2 separate regions of the Homo sapiens genome follow, and region 2 is linked to region 1. Evidence: fine-mapped expression QTL. Tissue or cell type: whole blood. Region 1 holds a variant in brackets; the other region holds the start of a gene. All regions are shown on one strand. Distances are between the middles of the regions.

Evidence for each region. PIP is the estimated chance that this variant, and not a neighbour inherited with it, causes the effect.
Region 2: it holds the start of SCARA5, and the variant in region 1 is fine-mapped to the expression of SCARA5 in whole blood (INTERVAL, PIP above 0.99).

What each region holds. Positions count from the first base shown.
Region 1 is chr8:27,842,383-27,850,487 of GRCh38, forward strand. No RefSeq gene overlaps it. Among named protein-coding and RNA genes, the nearest start is that of PBK, 8.6 kb to the left of the region's middle. The variant A/G (reference allele first, on the strand shown) is at 4,128.
Region 2 is chr8:27,988,724-27,996,828 of GRCh38, forward strand. SCARA5 (scavenger receptor class A member 5) reads right to left here and starts at 3,950. Exons shown (of 9, transcript NM_173833.6): 1 at 3,534-3,950.

The sequences.
Region 1 (8,105 bases):
GCACCCCTGTCTCTTGCAGGAGAGAGAGCAGTTCTCCTTTCTCTTTCTTTTGCCTATTAAATCTCTGCCCCTAAAGCCACTTCTTGTGTGTCCACATATTCGATTTCCTTGTGTAAAATGAGGAGCCTCGGGTATTTACCCCAGAAAATGACACCACTTCAATTGGTTAGGTGGGAACTTTTAGGAAAGAAGAGGAAAAATATCAAAATGTTAAGGTTTTATCTTGTTACATCTGTATATCCAACCAATCAACTTGACACATCCCTAGGGTGCTTCTCAGGTGTCCCAAAGCCATTAGGTCTTCAGATGAGGCCATCGAGCAACAGACTTGGATCAACCTCAAAATGTTCAGCAAAGAAGCTACATGCAAAAGAATACACTATTGCATAATGCTATTCATATAAATCTCAAAACAGGCAAAACAAAGCCATAGTATTTAGGAGTTCATGCTTAACTGACAAAAACATTACAAGGTAACACCACCAAAGTGACTACCATCAAAATCAGGTTCATGATCACTTTGGAGGAAGAAAGTAGGAAGGATCAGGAGAAGAATGAGAGGGGCTCCTGGGGTGCTAACATTCTAGCTCCCCACCTGAGTGATGCTACACAAGGGTTTGCTTTGATAAATCATTGTGCTGGACATTCTGTTTTGGGTACTTTTCTGTAGTGTTAAGTCCACAGGGGAAGAGCTTTTTAAAAGCAAAGGGACATGTACTCCATAAATATATACACCTACTGTGTACCCCTAAAAAGTTAAAAATTTAAATTTAAAAAAAAGCAAAGGGAGAAGAAAAAAAAATGTGATGGAAAGTGAGCCCGGGAAGGTCTGTCACCCACATAGGGACACAGCGAAAGGGTTCCGTTATGATCTTCTCAATGAGATGCACTTGGTGCAACCTGGAAGGCAGAAATGAGATGGAATCCCTTTCCTGCCCCTTTGCCTGTTTCCCCTGGCAAGCACAGCTCGGTGGGGGATGGCGGGGGGGGGGCGGGGGGGTTTGGGGGTTTGGGTTTTTTTTTTAGGGTTTCAGCAACCACATTCTTGTGTCTAGTCACTTACTTTGTGGGTCTTGAAAGACACCTGCAGTGGCAGTGGTGGTCTCCCAATCCGTGGATCACAGCTATGATGGGTGTCCTTGAATCTAACATGAACCCAACACCCCCAGTCCCAGTCTCCTGCCTGGCAATGGGCAGGTGTATAGTGGAAAAACAGTTTTTCTCTATACTCACACTCAACACTTCTGTGACCAGATGTGCACACTTTTTCCCATGCCAGCCACTTTTCCCACACCAGCTGGGTGTCGTACAATTCAATTCAGTTCTGACACAGACCAGAGTTAGCACAGACCTCACAGGTTAAGGGCTCAGTCCCACAACACCAGCCCCCAATTCAGATGCCAATCACAAGTAGTAAGTCCCCAGGACACCCACAACTTCTGTCTGATTTGGCTACAAATTGGAGCTTCCCATGAACCCCTCTTTGGGTTCAATATTTTGCTAGAGCAGCTCCCAGAACCCAGGAAGACAGTTTACTTACTATTGTCAATTTATTACTGAGGATATTTCAGCCAGATGAAAAGGTACAGCATAGGGCAAGGTCTAGAAGGGTCCCCAGCACAGGTCCCCATAGAGTTAGAGTGCACTAGCCTCCTGGCACGTGGATGCATTCACCAACCTGGAATCTCCCTGAACTCCATCTTTTAGGGATGTTAATGGAGGCTTCATCACAAAGGCATGATTGATTATTAACCCAATCGCTAGACCCTCTCTCCTCCCTGGAGAATGAGGGGTAGGGGTGAAAGTTCTAGGCTTCTGATCATGGCTTGGTCGTTCTGGTGACAAGCTCTCATTCAGCAGCCCAGCAAAAGTCACCTACAGACAGTATAACAGATGCTCCTATCACCCAGGTCATTCCAAGGGATGAGGAGCTCTGAGTCCAGACCCTGGCATCTGGGAGAGGTGCAGCTGCAGCTGTGGAGCAAGGTGGGTGGGGGTTTGCGGGGAGGAACCCTTTGCACATCCACCTAGGGAGGGCTGGTCTCCACCAGCTTTGTTCATCCTCAATGGCTAAAGGTTTCCATTTGCAGTTTTCTGACTTTTCCTACCTCCCAATAAGAAGCGAAATTAGCTGGTTCTGGGAATACGGGGCTTGAAAAACAAGAAGTGCTTTGGAAAATGTGCTGGGATCTGAGTCGCCTGTAATTGATGAGTTCCTGCCTCCATTGTGGTCCAGTGAACTGGGAAGATGTGGCAGGGAACTCAAACCCTCCCTAAGGGAAGACGCCTACTTAATGCCTAAGGAAGATGAGTTTTCCATCCTCTGTGATTGTGTAAGATTTCCGGGCCAGCCCTGACATCTGGCCACAATCTCAGCACCCAGTCATTGTTTTTGTTCCACAATATTCTTTGCTTTTTAACTCCATCAGAAAAAAAAAAAAACTGTCTTGATTCTCAACATGTTAGGGTGAATCAATACAGTGATTAATAGGAAATAATTTTTGGTGGTTTATATTTTAAGTACTAAGTACCCATCTAGAATGTATAGGGTGGTCAGGAACTTAGAGGGAATGGAAATCCTCCTGCACACTGGATGCGGTTTGAAATTATCCTGCCACTAAGACAACAGCAGCATAAACATACTGGGTGAAGAAAAATAAGCCGGATGTTCTCAGGACATCTGAAAATCATTGGTTCAGACCCTTTCCTTAGGGAAGATAGTTAAATGGAGAAGTTGGTCACTTTAGAACCCATGAAGCTGAGGCATGAGAACAAGCCCAGAGCTTTTTCAGCAACGTGACACACTCAGTTTGTTTGTTTGTTTTTTAATTAAAAAAAATAATTGGCCAGGCAGAATGGCTCATGACTGTAATCCCAGCAGTTTGGGAGGGTGAGGTGGGAGGATTGCTTGAGGCCAGAAATTAGAGATGAGCCTGGGCAACATAGCTAGACCCTGTCTCTCCAAAAAAAAAAAAAAAAAAATTAGAAAAAAAATTAGCTGAGCATGGTGACTCATGCCTGCAGTCCCAGAGCCTTGGGAGGCCAAGGCAGGAGGATCACTTGAGGCCAGGAGTTCAAGATCAGCCTGGGCAACATGGTGAGACCCTATCTCTACAAAAAAAAAAAAAAAAAAAAAAGCCAGGCATGACGGCGTATGCCTGTAGCGCTGGCTGCTTGGGAGGCTGAGGTGGGAGGACTGTTTGAGCCAGGGAGTTTGAGGCTATCGTGAGCTGTGATTGTACCATTGCACTCCAGCTTGGGTAATAGAACGAGACCCTGTGAAAAACGAAAAAGCAAACCAAAAGAAACTTGTTCCTCAGGCATAAGGGGTAGGTGGATATCAGAAGGGAAGGGCCTCCTAAGGCCCTAATACCTATGCCCCTTCATGCACCTATTAATATTCTCAGCATAAATTTAGCAGCCCTCAATCAAAGAACAGTCCCAAGCTAGGCATAGAGCTCATTAGATGGCTGCTATGGTGAATGAGACATATGTTTGTATTTTTAAATTGTAAGCCTGAACTAGGAAGACTTTGATGAGTCTGTTCCCTGTGTGTGGGAGGAGAGATTGCATTTGCATTTTATGGATTGCTCAAGAAAACTCCAAAAGTGGGAAAACTCATTCAATTCCCTCCCTCATTCTCTTATTTATCTCTTGAAAAAATGAACCTGAGCTAAGTGCTGGATGTTAAAAAAAATGAAAAGATAAAAAAAAAACTTGCTTTCAGGGAGCATTCAGACTACTTAGCAAATGGATGCAATACAATGTGTCAAAGAGATAATGGATGATAGTGAGCCTGACTGTGCTGGGGGTGTCCTGCAAGATTTCATTGACTTGGGTCTTGAAGTATGACAAGTTTGCATGATGATCCTGTTTCATGGGCACAAGGGCAGGGCAGGGCTCACCAGGCAAGAGGATAGGATGGGTAGAGGCATGACAAAAGATGCACAATCTTTGAACAGTAAAGAGCAAGGAAGGCTGGGTGCGGTGGCTCACTGCTGTAATCTCAGCCCTTTGAGAGGCTGAAATGGGAGGATCACTTGAGCTCAGAAGTTCAAGATCAGCCTGGGCAACATGGGGAGACCCCATCTCTATAAAAAATATTTAAGAAATTAGGTGGGCATGGG[A/G]GCACACACCTTTAGTCTCAGCTACTCCTCAGGAAGCTGAGGTAGGAGGATCACTTGGGCTGATGAGGTTGAGGCTGCAGTGAGCTGTGACCATGCCACTGCACTCCAGCCTGGGTTGCAGAGAAAGTTCCTGTCTCAAGGAAGACAATAATAAGGCAAGGAAAAGTAACTGGGGAAATAGGAAGAGGCCAGACCATGGCCTTTTCTGGTGTAGAAATTTGAACTTCATTTTGTAGGTCTTAGGGAGTCACAGAAGGATTTAAAGCAAGACAGTGACATGATCAGAATCATGTTAGATGGAGAAATCTCCCTGTGATTATTGGTGGGAGCAGGTAATGGGAAATTGTGGTAATCCCGGTGATAGATCAAGAAGGATGACACTGGCCAGTCGAAGTGGACTGTAAAGAACAAAACCAATTCTACCCCAGCATTTATGGGGTAGAATCAGTAGCAGAGTTTGTGAAGTCATTAGAAGCCTCTTGCCAAAACAAAAGTTTGGTCCCTCAAGAAGGGTACTGCAATATGGTCAAAAGAGAAAGGCCAAAAGTGCTTTCCTAGATATTGCTCCTCTGTGGCAGGAACAGGCAGAGAACCAAAAAGAAAGGAAGCTAGGAAGAGTATCTACCAAGCTATACCATGCCTCTGAGTTCACACTGTGGTTAGGCTAAAACTCTAAGAGAATAATAGAATATAGTTGAAAATTCCAGGTTGGATCAAGACTCAAGGCATATCATTTTGCACCTGCTATAAGTTCCTTTAAAAAAAAATCCTATCTGGGGCCAGGTGCGGTGGCTCACACCTGTAATCCCAGCACTTTGGGAGGCTGAGGCGGGCGGATCATGAGGTCAAGAAATCGAGATCATCCTGGCTAACATGGTGAAACCCTGTCTCTATTAAAAATACAAAAAATTAGTGTGTGTGCATAGTGGCACACAACTGTAGTCCCAGCTACTCGGGAGGCTGAGGCAGGAGAATCGCTAGAACTGGGAGGCGGAGGTTGCAGTGAGCCGAGATCACGACACTGCACTACAGCCTGGGTAACAAGAGCAAGACTCCGTCAAAAAAAAAAAAATCTATTTTGAAAAATGTAATATATTTAATTTGTATTGAGTCAAAATTCACATGCAATGAAACGCATAGATTTTATGTGTATAATTGATAAGTACACACACAATACATGACTGTGTACACAACTCCTTTGTATGTGATTGGAAATATTTTCTCCCAGTCTGTAGCTTGCCTTTTGATTTTCTTGACATCTTTTGACCAACAGAAGACTTTTTTTTTTTTTTAATTTGAGATAGAGTCTTGCTCTGTCACCTAGGCTGGAGTCTGGAGTGCAATGGCATGATCTCAGCTCACTCCATCCTCCGCCTCCAGGGTTCATGCAATTCTTTTGCCTCAGCCTCCTGAGTAGCCAAGATTACAGGCATGCACCACCATCCCTGGCTAATTTTTATATTTTTAGTAGAGATGGGGTTTTGCCATGTTGGCTAGGCTGGTCTTGAACTCCTGACCTCAGTTGATCTGCCTGCCTTGCCCTCCCAAAGTGCTGGGCCACTGCACTAAAAGATTTAATTTTAATGAAATCCAATTTAACATTTTTAATGGTTAGTTTCTAACACTTTATTTTCTTAGAGCAGTTTTAACTTTATAGCAAGATTGAGCAGAAAAGATGGTATTTCTATATACTTTCTGCCCTCCACATGCACAGCCTTCCCCATTATCAACATCCCCCACCAGAGTGGTGCATTTGTTACAACTGATAAACCTACACTGATATATTAGTATTACCCAAAGTCTATAGTTTACCTTAGGGTTCACTCTTGGTGTTGTACATTCTGTGCATTTAAATAAATGTATAATAGCATGTATTCAACATTATGATATCACACAGAGTAGTTTCACTGCCCTAAAAATCCTCTGTGCTCTACCTATTCATCTCTCTCTCCCCAGAAACCCCTGGCAACTACTGACCTTTTTACGGTCTCCATAGTTTTCCCTTTTCCAGAGTGTCATATAGTTGCAGTCATATATTATGTACCCTTTTTTAGCCTTTTTCACTTAGTGCTATACATTTAAGTTTCTTCCATGTCTTTTCAAGGCTCAATAACTAATTTCTTTTTAGCACTGGATAATATTCCATTGTCTGGATGTAACATTCACCTACTGAAGGACATCTTAAGTGCTTTCAAGTTTTGGTAGTTATGAATGAATGAAGCTGGTATAAACGTTCATGTGTAGGTTTGTGTGTTGTCATAAGTTTTCAACTCTTTCGGGTAAGTATCAAGGATCTAAAAGGTTAACGTTATACCCAAGGTCATCTAAGTTTTCTCCTGTGTTATCTTCTACGAGTTTTAGTTTTACATCTTACATTTAGGTTTGTGATCCATTTTGAGATAATTTTTGTGAAGGGTGTAAGGCCTGTGTCTAGATTCATATTTTTTTGCATATGAGTGTCCAGTTATTCCAGCACCACTTACTGAAAAGACTGTCCTTGCTCCATTGTATCACCTTTGCTCCTTTGGAAAAAAATCAGTTGACTATATCTGTGTGGTTCTACATCTGGGCTTTCTATTTTGTTCTGTTGATCAATTTGTCTATTATTTCACCAATAGCACACTGTCTTGATTATTGTAGCTTTATAGTAAGTATCGAAGTTAGGTGGTGTTGGCCAGGCATGCTGGCTCACTCCTGTAATCCCAGCATTTTGGGAGGCCAAGGCAGGCAGATCATCTGAAGTCAGGAGTTCGAGACCAGCCTAGCCAACATGGCGAAACCCCGTCTCTACTAAAAATATAAAAATTAGCTGGGTGTGGTGGCACGTGCCTGTAGTTCCAGCCACTCAGGAGACTGAGGCAGGAGAATTGCTTGAACCTGGGAGGTGGTGGTTGCAGTGAGCCGAAATTGCACCACTGCACTCCAGCCTGGGTGACAGAGTGAGACTCTGTCTCAAAAAAAAAAAAAAAAAAAAAAAAGTTAGGTATTGTCAGTCTTCCAATTTTGTCTTTTCAGTCTATTATGTTGACTGTTCTGGTCTTTTGCCTCTCCATGTAAATTTTAGAATAAGTTTGTTGAGATCTACAACATAACTTGCTAAAATTGTGATTGAGATTGTATTGAATTTATAAAGTTGGGAAGAACTGACATCTTGGCAATATTGAGTCTTCCTTTCCATGAACATGGAATATCTCTCCATTTATTTAGTTCTTTATTTCATGTGTGTTGTAGTTTTCCCTATATAGATCTTGTATATATTTTTTAGACTTATACAGAATTTATTTCATTTGGGAGAGTGCTAATGTAAATGATACTGTGTTTTTAACTTCAAATTCCACTTGTTCATTGCTGGTATATAGGAAAGCAATTGATTTTTGTATATTAACCTTGTGTCTTGAAATCTTGCTATAATTCCTTCTTGGTTCCAGGAGTTTGGTTGTTTTTTTTTTTTTTTTGAGACGGAGTTTCACTCTTTTTGCCCAGGCTGGAGTACAGTGGCACTATCTCAGCTCACCGCAACCACCACCTTCTGGGTTCAAGCAATTCTCCTGCCTCAGCCTCCTGAGTAGCTGGGATTACAGGCACCCACCACCATGCCCAGCTAATTTTGTATTTTTAGTAGAGACAGTTTCTCCATGTTGGTCAGGTTGGTCTCGAACTCCCGGCCTCAGGTGATCCGCCCGCCTCGGCCTCCCAAAGTGCTGGGATTACAGGCGTGAGCCACTGCACCTGGCCTTTTTTTTTTTTTTTTTTTTAAGATTTTTACAGATTTTCTACATAGACAACTATGTCATCTGTGACGAAAGATAGTTTTATCCTTGTTATTTTCTTCCTTCTATTTGTTTTGGATTTAATTTGCTTCCCTTCCCTCTGTCACCAGCTTCTTACAGTGGAGATTTGGATAATTGATTTAAACCTCTTTTCTTTTATAATATGAGCATTTAAAGCTATAGATTCCTTTGAAGTATTGCTTTAGTG
Region 2 (8,105 bases), 150 kb after region 1:
ATTATTCTCTACTTTCATCAAGGTTCCAGCCATGAGTTTATCTTGACCTTTGCTTCTGATTCTCTTTAACTATCTGGACATTTAACCAAAGAACAGCATCCTTTAGAAGATAAAAGCCCCATGAGGATGGGTCCCAGGCCCAGTATGGAGCAAACTCAACCCTTCAACCCAGAGGAGGCTGGGAGGAGAGGATGCAGGGCTGGCAGGTGGCAGTGGGGGGACAATGCCTGTTGATTGAGAGATCAGTCAATCAGTTTCTCTTCAGAGGGAGGGTGGGCAAGGAGGCGTGGCAACTTTCATAAATAGACATAATCAGGGAAGGCGGCTGGCGGGGTTGCTCTGCAGCAGAGCAAAACAAGAATTCCGTATTTTCTTTCTTCTTTTTTTTTTTCTGTTTCTTTCTTTCTTTTTTTTTTTTTTTTTTTTTTTTGAGACAGGGTCTCACTCTGTTGCCCAGGCTGGATGGCAGTGGTGCAGTCTTGGCTCACTGCAACCTCCGCCTCCCGGGCTCAAGTGATCCTCCCAACTCATCCTCCTGAGTAGCTGGGATTACAGGCACAAGCCACCATGTCCAGCTAATTTTTTGCAGAGATGGGGTTTCACCATGTTGGCCAGGCTGGTCTGGAACTCCTGGAGTCAAGCGCTCCACTGGCCTCAGCCTCCCAAAGTGCTGAGATTACAGGTGTGAGCCACTGCACCCAGCTGAAGCCCCTATTTTCATGACTTGAGCTTGGCCTCCACAGACCTCTGACATTTGGGCTGAGAAGAGACCAGAACTGACCAGTCACTGTATACATGTCCTTCTAATGACCCAGGAGGGCTGGACGCCTCTGCTGTTAGCCCTTCTGTACATCCCCCATAACGGGCACACACACGCATGTGCACACACACAGCCTTGGGGCTCCCAGTATCTGCGGGCCTCTCCTCCAGCCTATGGGAGGGATGGAACAGGGGGTGGTCCTCGGCTCTGCCAGGATCTCTCCTCCCTGCCCCAGACACCACCCACTCTGGCTTCCCTGTGCTGCAGTGGTGTCCAGTTCACTGGGCTCCCAATTCCGGCCCTCCACCCAATGCCTCCACCCAGGCAGGGCCTCTAGGTGGGGCCGCGGGCAGCTCCAGCACTGCTAAGTTGCAAGGGACCCTCCCTCATTTCATGAGCACTGTGTGCGGCAGCCCTCCCTCTGGCTTCACTCCTTGCGGGGCTGTGAAGCAGGAGGCCAATGTCTCTTTTGCCTGCAATAACCCTCCCTCTGCCAAAGGCAATAGCCTCTGCTTCCCAGAGGCCACACAGAGCCAGACAGGGCGCTGCCCCTGGGGAGTGGAGGTGTGAGGCCCCACTGCCATTTCCACCTTCCTCCTCTTCTGGTCAGCTCCTGGGACGGGGCTGGAATGCACGGCTTGTTAGCCAGAATGTGTGTGAAGGGCAGCTGTCTCCTTCCTCCTCCCCACCCCTCAGCTGGTCCAGCAGGAGCCCAGGGGATCTGCTGGGGAGAGGGACTGGGGCCGAGCGGGGCCAGATGTGAGTGCACAGGGCTTGGAAAAGCTCAGACAACTCTACTCATGTTTGTTACTTGGAATTGAAACCTACGCATGTTCTGTCTGCCCAAGGTTTCTTGGGGGCTGTTTTTCTTTCTTGGGGGAGGAAGCAGGCATTGGGACCCTCAGATCATGGATCTTACTGTCTTTGGACCAAGTCTGTGCTCTAGAAGATGAAACTGATGGCAAGTGCTCCTCCCAGGAGCACTGTGTTGGGGGTAGGCTGATGGCATTTGCATTCCGTCCCTCCCATTTTAAACATAAGCCATCCCAGACCAAAGAGGCAAAGGAAGGAATGGATATCAGAGCGGGAAGAGGCCCCGGGCACAGTTTTCCTACACAGGGCACTGGCTCAGCTGCAGGGTTGCTTTGTTTGGGAATTGCATGTCAGCCCCTTTGGTGACCACTTTCTGGGCCCCAGATCAGGCAGAGAAGAGAATCCCACCTCAGACTGCCAGCCAGTGTACTCCAGCAGGTGGGGATCCTGGGACTGAGGCAGGGCTCTGAGAGCTTGAAGCACATGGGCGAGATGTGGAAGCCACAGTGACCTGTGGATGAAGCCCAAGGAGACTGGACCTCAACTTGCAACTCAAAGAGGGAGGTCTTGCTCTAACAGGGAGGTGTCACCCTCTCCACTAACCTCTTGGCAATCATGATTTACTTCCAGACAATTTCACCCAAGGCACTTAGAAGGGCAGGTTCAGAGCCAGGGATCTGCTTCTAGATTCTGCATTTTAGAGCTGGAAAAGCCCTCAGCCATCTGTGCCCTGCAGCCCTGTGCCCTGGGGCCATCTGCGCCCTGCAGGCCTGGCTCTCTGCAGGAATGCAGGGAACACAGAAGCCAAGGGCTCCCATCCTAGCTCCTCTGCGTATTGGTTTCTTGGGGGAACTTGGCTCAATTACCTGACCTCATTCAGCCTCAGGTACATGACCTCTAAGATGGGAAGGTGGGTAGCTGCTGGTCACCCAGGATCACTGTGAGCCTCCCGTGAGATAATGCATGTGGCATGACTTTATGAACAAGGTCACTCAGGGGAGCTGGTGGCAGTCTGATGAGAAAAAGCATCCCCCAGCATCTTCTGACTCTGCCTGGCAGCCAGGTAAGGGGGTGTCCAGGTTCCCAAGGCCTCCCTCCTACCTAGCCAGTCTCAGAAACAAAGCTGTTTGAAGTTCCCTTTGTAAAAGGCAATCGCGAATGCACTCTAGGGCTGATATCAGGACCCTGGCTCTTCAATCCTTCTCTGGAGATCAGAAGGACTCCATTAATTCCTCCTCTGAGTGGGTAGCACGAGCCTCATTTGCTGCTACCAAGTCAGTTTCTCTGGGTACCCGCATCTAACTCTGCAGGGTTTATGGCTTTTCTTTGGATTACCTCACTTTAAACTCATCAAAACCAAGGAAAAAAATCACATGAGTGTGGCCCTTCTCCAAAGAGAGAATCACTAAGGAGGTTTTAAATGTTTTCCTCCTCTAACTGTACTTAGTTAAGCTAAATCATAACCCAAAGCTGGACAGAGACAGATATTTTAGAAATAACCTCTCCCCACATATATCCCACCACTGGCACATGCACACGCACAGACATGCACACACACACACATGCACACACACACACATGCACACACACACATGCACACACACACATGCACACACACGAAGCCATGGAGAGGAGCTGTCACCTGAGCCATCTGCACCCTGAGTAGGCTCTTGAGCTGTGACATGAGTCAGGTGGAGTAGCCACCAAGGCAATAGCTTCCCTCTGGCACCCCAAATGCAGGCTCACATTCTCTCCAGCCCAGGCAGTTGGATGAGGGCCCGGCAGATATCTGCGGGCCCAGCAGGCGGGGACCTTCCCACCTGGAGAAGGCACCTCCAGGCTCTAGGTCTGAAGTTTCCCAAACTCTGTACTCCTCTCCATCCAGTTCACTCCAGTCTCCTCCAGCTGTCTTTGAGACAGCATGCCCAGGAGATAGGACAAAATTAGTACCAAGACTCACCTGAGTGCCCCTGGCTGAGGCTGTAGAGCCTTGTCCCCTCAGATCTCAGCATTTGCCATGGTGGCCAGAGAGCTGGCTGCCACCACGCTGAGAGCCAGGCCGCCCCTCGGACCGCGTCCCCACAGCCAGCCAAATCCAGATGGAGTCATAGAAAGGGGCTGCAGGGGCGCCCAGGGACGAGTCTCAGAGCAGGACCACAGGGGCCACTTCTGCAGGAGGACCAGGTCAAGATGCAACCTGTGGCAGAGTGGGGGTCTGGGCCTGGGGGACCCAGAATGGGGGGTGTGCGCCTGGGACTCCCTGTCCTTGGTGCCTGGTCCTGGGTAGCGATCAGGAGATGTTCTGAGGAGGCACCGGCAGCTCCTCTAGGTACTGCCTGAGATGCGAACTGCAGCTGCTCTCGCCGCCAGTCCGTATAAAATAAAGTTCTTGGAGCAGTTGCGGAGGCTTCTGCAATGGGGTCTGGAATACGGCCCCCCTCCTGCGGCCAATCGTGGCATTACAGCCCCGTGTGGGAACGCCCGCTGGGCCCAGAGCAGCGCGGTCGGCCTTGGCCTTGGGACTCCAACACCCCAGTCTAAAGGTCCTGCTCAAAATACTTTTTGGAAGACTTCTGGGGGAGTGGCAGCTAGACCTGGCTTATGAGCCACGCAAGAAAACCAGTCTTGTAAATTTATTTATAGCACAGAATTGGCATGGCTCAATTCATTCACCAAGCTTGGCACAGAGTTACTTCATGTATTTTCCTGGAGTCACATTCATCCTCAGTGGACACGGATTGGCCACACTGGGGGTAGTCAGGAAAATGCCCCAGGGGGTTCCACGGAACTCAGCAGCAGAATCAGCGTTTCTGGCTCATTAACGCTGCACAGGGGCTGGGGGGTGCAGGATGAAGACTAGCTGGCTGTCCATAGCAATTCAGTATGGGAGGGGGACCCAGGCACGAATAATCCTAAACCTGAGCATGATTGCTTACGTTTGAAAAAGGACATCTAGGCCGGGTGCAGTGACTCACACCTGTGGTCCCAGCACTTTGGGAGGCTGAGGTGGGAGGATTGCTTGAGCCCACCCACAAGTTCAAGACCAGCCTGGGCAACATAGTGAGACCCCATCTCTAAAAAAAAAAAAAATCTCTTTAAAGGCAATCTAACCATATGTGAAGGGAGCTGCTAAATTCAGATTGAGGTGGTAGTATCAGGGGCATCAGAGAAATCACCATAATTGTCCAAGCCAGGGTGGCAGAGTTAGGCTATGCAGATGGCTTCCAGAGGACAGCACCCAGAGGTAACATTCATGAATGCATTCCTGTTTGTTGGTGAAAAGTTCAGCCTCAAGACTCCAGGGTCAGGCTTCGTACATGAAAAGTGTTTGCCAAGACTCAGCTGTGTCACTGCAGCTGCCCGCCCACAGCTGAGTCAGAAACGCCGTCCTCATTCTCAGTGACTGCCCTGCCTGACTGCCTAGGAAGCAGCTCCAACATCAAACTCCATTTTACAGAAAGAACAAATGATAATTGTATCATTATGGTAATAATCCCAGGGAGCGGAGGAGGAGAAGGAAAAGAAGACAACACTTTATAGCATATACCATGTGTTTCTTATATATTAGCTCATTGAACCTATTCAACAACCCCCTGAGGCAGGTGCTGCTATTATGCTCATTTACAGAGACAGAGAGGAAGTGACTTGTCCAGGGTCTTGTAGCCAGTAAGTGGCAGAGCTAGTATTCAACCCTAGGCAATGTGATCCTAGGGTCTATGCTCTTAACCCCTCCCCTGTACCATTGCCTCTCAAGGGGAAACAAATGTTTTTGTCCCCCATCAATTCACCAACATTCCTAGGAATGTAATCTTAAAAACAGCCAGAAATGTGCTCAAAATATGATGTCCAACCAGCCTGGGCAACATGACAAAACCCTGTCTCTACAAAAAAAAAAAAATACAAACAATAGCTGGGCGTGGTGATGCACACCTGTAGTCCCAGGTGCTTGGGAGGCTGAGATGGGAGGATCAACTGAGCCCAGGAGTTTGAGGCTGCAGTGAGCTGTGATCGCACCACTGCACCCCAGACTGGGTAACAGAACAAGATCCTGTCTTAAAAAAAAAAGTGATGTCCAAAGACCTTCCCTAAAGAGATGTGTATGTTAGCAAGAAATGTGGTAGTTAGTGTCCCCCTAAATTCAAGCATTGGAAATGTAATCTTTATTGCAACAGTGTTGGGAGGTGGGGCCTTTGTGGGGGTATTTGAGTCATGAATGTATTTGGGATGCCGTAGAAAGGGCTTGCAGGAGTGGGCTGGCTTGATCCTCTGCCTTTCTGCCATGTGAGGACTCCACGCTCATCCTCGCTTGTCCTCCCACCTCCCGCCCTGTTCGAAGCACTGAGTCCTATTGCGTGATAGGCACATACCACACACAATGTGTATATCGGTCTCCTGCTGAAGGGGGTTTGGGATGTTTCCAATCTTTGTCTATTATGAATAAAGCTGCCGGAACAGGCAAAGGGAGATTTGACAGTGAAGTATAGGAATGACCTGGAGGGCTGGTTTTCTCATGGGTGAGAGTCCTCCCGGCAGCTCTTAGCTCAGATACCTCCTTGCCACTAAAATCAGAATTGTCCCCAAAATGATTTGCTTCCATTCAATCACGGATGGCATTTGTAGTAGGCATTTCCCCCCCAGAAGCTGAATGAAAATGTGATTGCCTTGATAGAGGAGGGTTCAATAGACTTCTGAAGTAGTTTCATCTATGAAATCTCAGTATTTGAAATGGAGGGACCAAGCTTTTTCAGTTTGTTTTTTCTAGAGGTAGGATGTCACTTTATCACCCAGGTCGGAGTACAGTGGCACAATCATAGCTCACTGCAGCCTCGACCTCCCAGGCTCAAGTGATCCTCCCACCTCAACCTCCTGAGTAGCTGGGGCTACAAGCACATGCCACCACACCCAGCTAATTTTTTAAAATCCTTTGTAGAGATGAGGTCTCGCTATCTTGCCCAGGCTGGTCTCAAACTTCTGACCTCGAGCAATCCTCCCGCCTCCACCAGCCAAAGTGCTGGGATTACAGGTGTGAGCCACCATGTCCAGACTCCATTTTTGACTCTGATAAATGGTGCTGCTGTGAACATTCTTGTGTGTGTCTTCTGGGGAACATATGAATGCCATTCTCTTGGGCATATACCTGGGCATGGAATCGCCAGGGCATAGGATGGCCCTGTGTTCAGCTTTGGTAGACACTGCCAAAGAGTTTCCTATGGTGGTTGTACTAGTTTATATCCAGCAGGGGATGAAACTACACTTATTCCTTGTCCTTGTCAGTGTCAGTGATGTTTATTCCATTTTCCCTGCTCTGGTGCATTGTAGAGGTGCCATATTGTGGTTTTAATTTGCATTTTCCTGATGACTCATGAAGTTGAGCACCTTTAATTATGTCATTAAGTCTGATTGTTGACTTGAACTCTGGGCCCGTTACACCAGCAGGTCCTGCCCTATGGCTTGGGGTTGGCTGTTCCATCTGCCTGGAGTGGTTCCACCAGATGTTTGCACAACTAACTTCTTTGCCTCATTCCCATCTTTTCTCAAATGTCACTTTGTTCATGCTGCTGAGCCTAATGATTCCTACCCACAGGCCAGGCATGGTGGCTCACGCCTACAATCCCAGCACTTTGGGAGGCCAAAGCGGGAGGATCACTTAAGGTCAGGAGTTTGAGACCAGCCTGGTCAACATGGTGAAAACCTGTCTCTACCGAAAATACAAAAATTAGCTGGGTGCAGTAGCAGGCACCTGTAGTCCCAGCTACTCGGGAGGCCGAGGTGGGAGGATCACTTGAACCAGGCAGGCCGAAGCTGCAGTGAGCCAGGATTGCACCACTGCACTCCAGCCTGGGTGATAAAGCGAGACCTGATCTCAAATAAATAAATAAATAAAATTGCTACACACCCCTTGCCACTCTTAGTCCCCCTCACCCTGCTTGGTTTTGCTTACTGTCTGCTAGAACAGCAGCTCCAGGAAGGCAGCTCACTTGAGTGCTTCAAAATGCCTAGCAGGGTGCCTGGCGCACAGTACACGCTCCAGAAATATTGGTTGTGTGACAATCTGAGGAAACAGCATCAGGCACAGGGAACAGAAGGCTCAGAGGCCTCAGTATGGAAACACACTGGACATGCCGGAGGGGCAGAGAAAGGCCCAGTGGCCAGAGCACAGAGGATGCAGTGGCCAGAGAGAGGAGGTCAGGGGAGAGGGAAGCCTGGGTCTCACCCTGAGCACAGAGTGGAGCTGAGGCCACGCCCTTCTTTTTTGTCTCTATCTTCTCCCAGGGAACACATCGATCCTGTACTGTTCATATTTTTGCTTCTTTTTTTTTTTTTTTTTACATATTTCTTCATTATAGTTTGCTACTTCTTGTTTAAACTTTTTAAAAAAATTAATTGTGGTAAAACACACATTGCATAAAATTTGCCATCCTAACCCTTATTTATTTGTTTGTTTGTTTGTTTATTTATTTATTTATTTATTTATTTATTGAGACAGAGTCTTACTCTGTGGCCCAGGCTGGAGTGCAGTGGCGTGATCTCA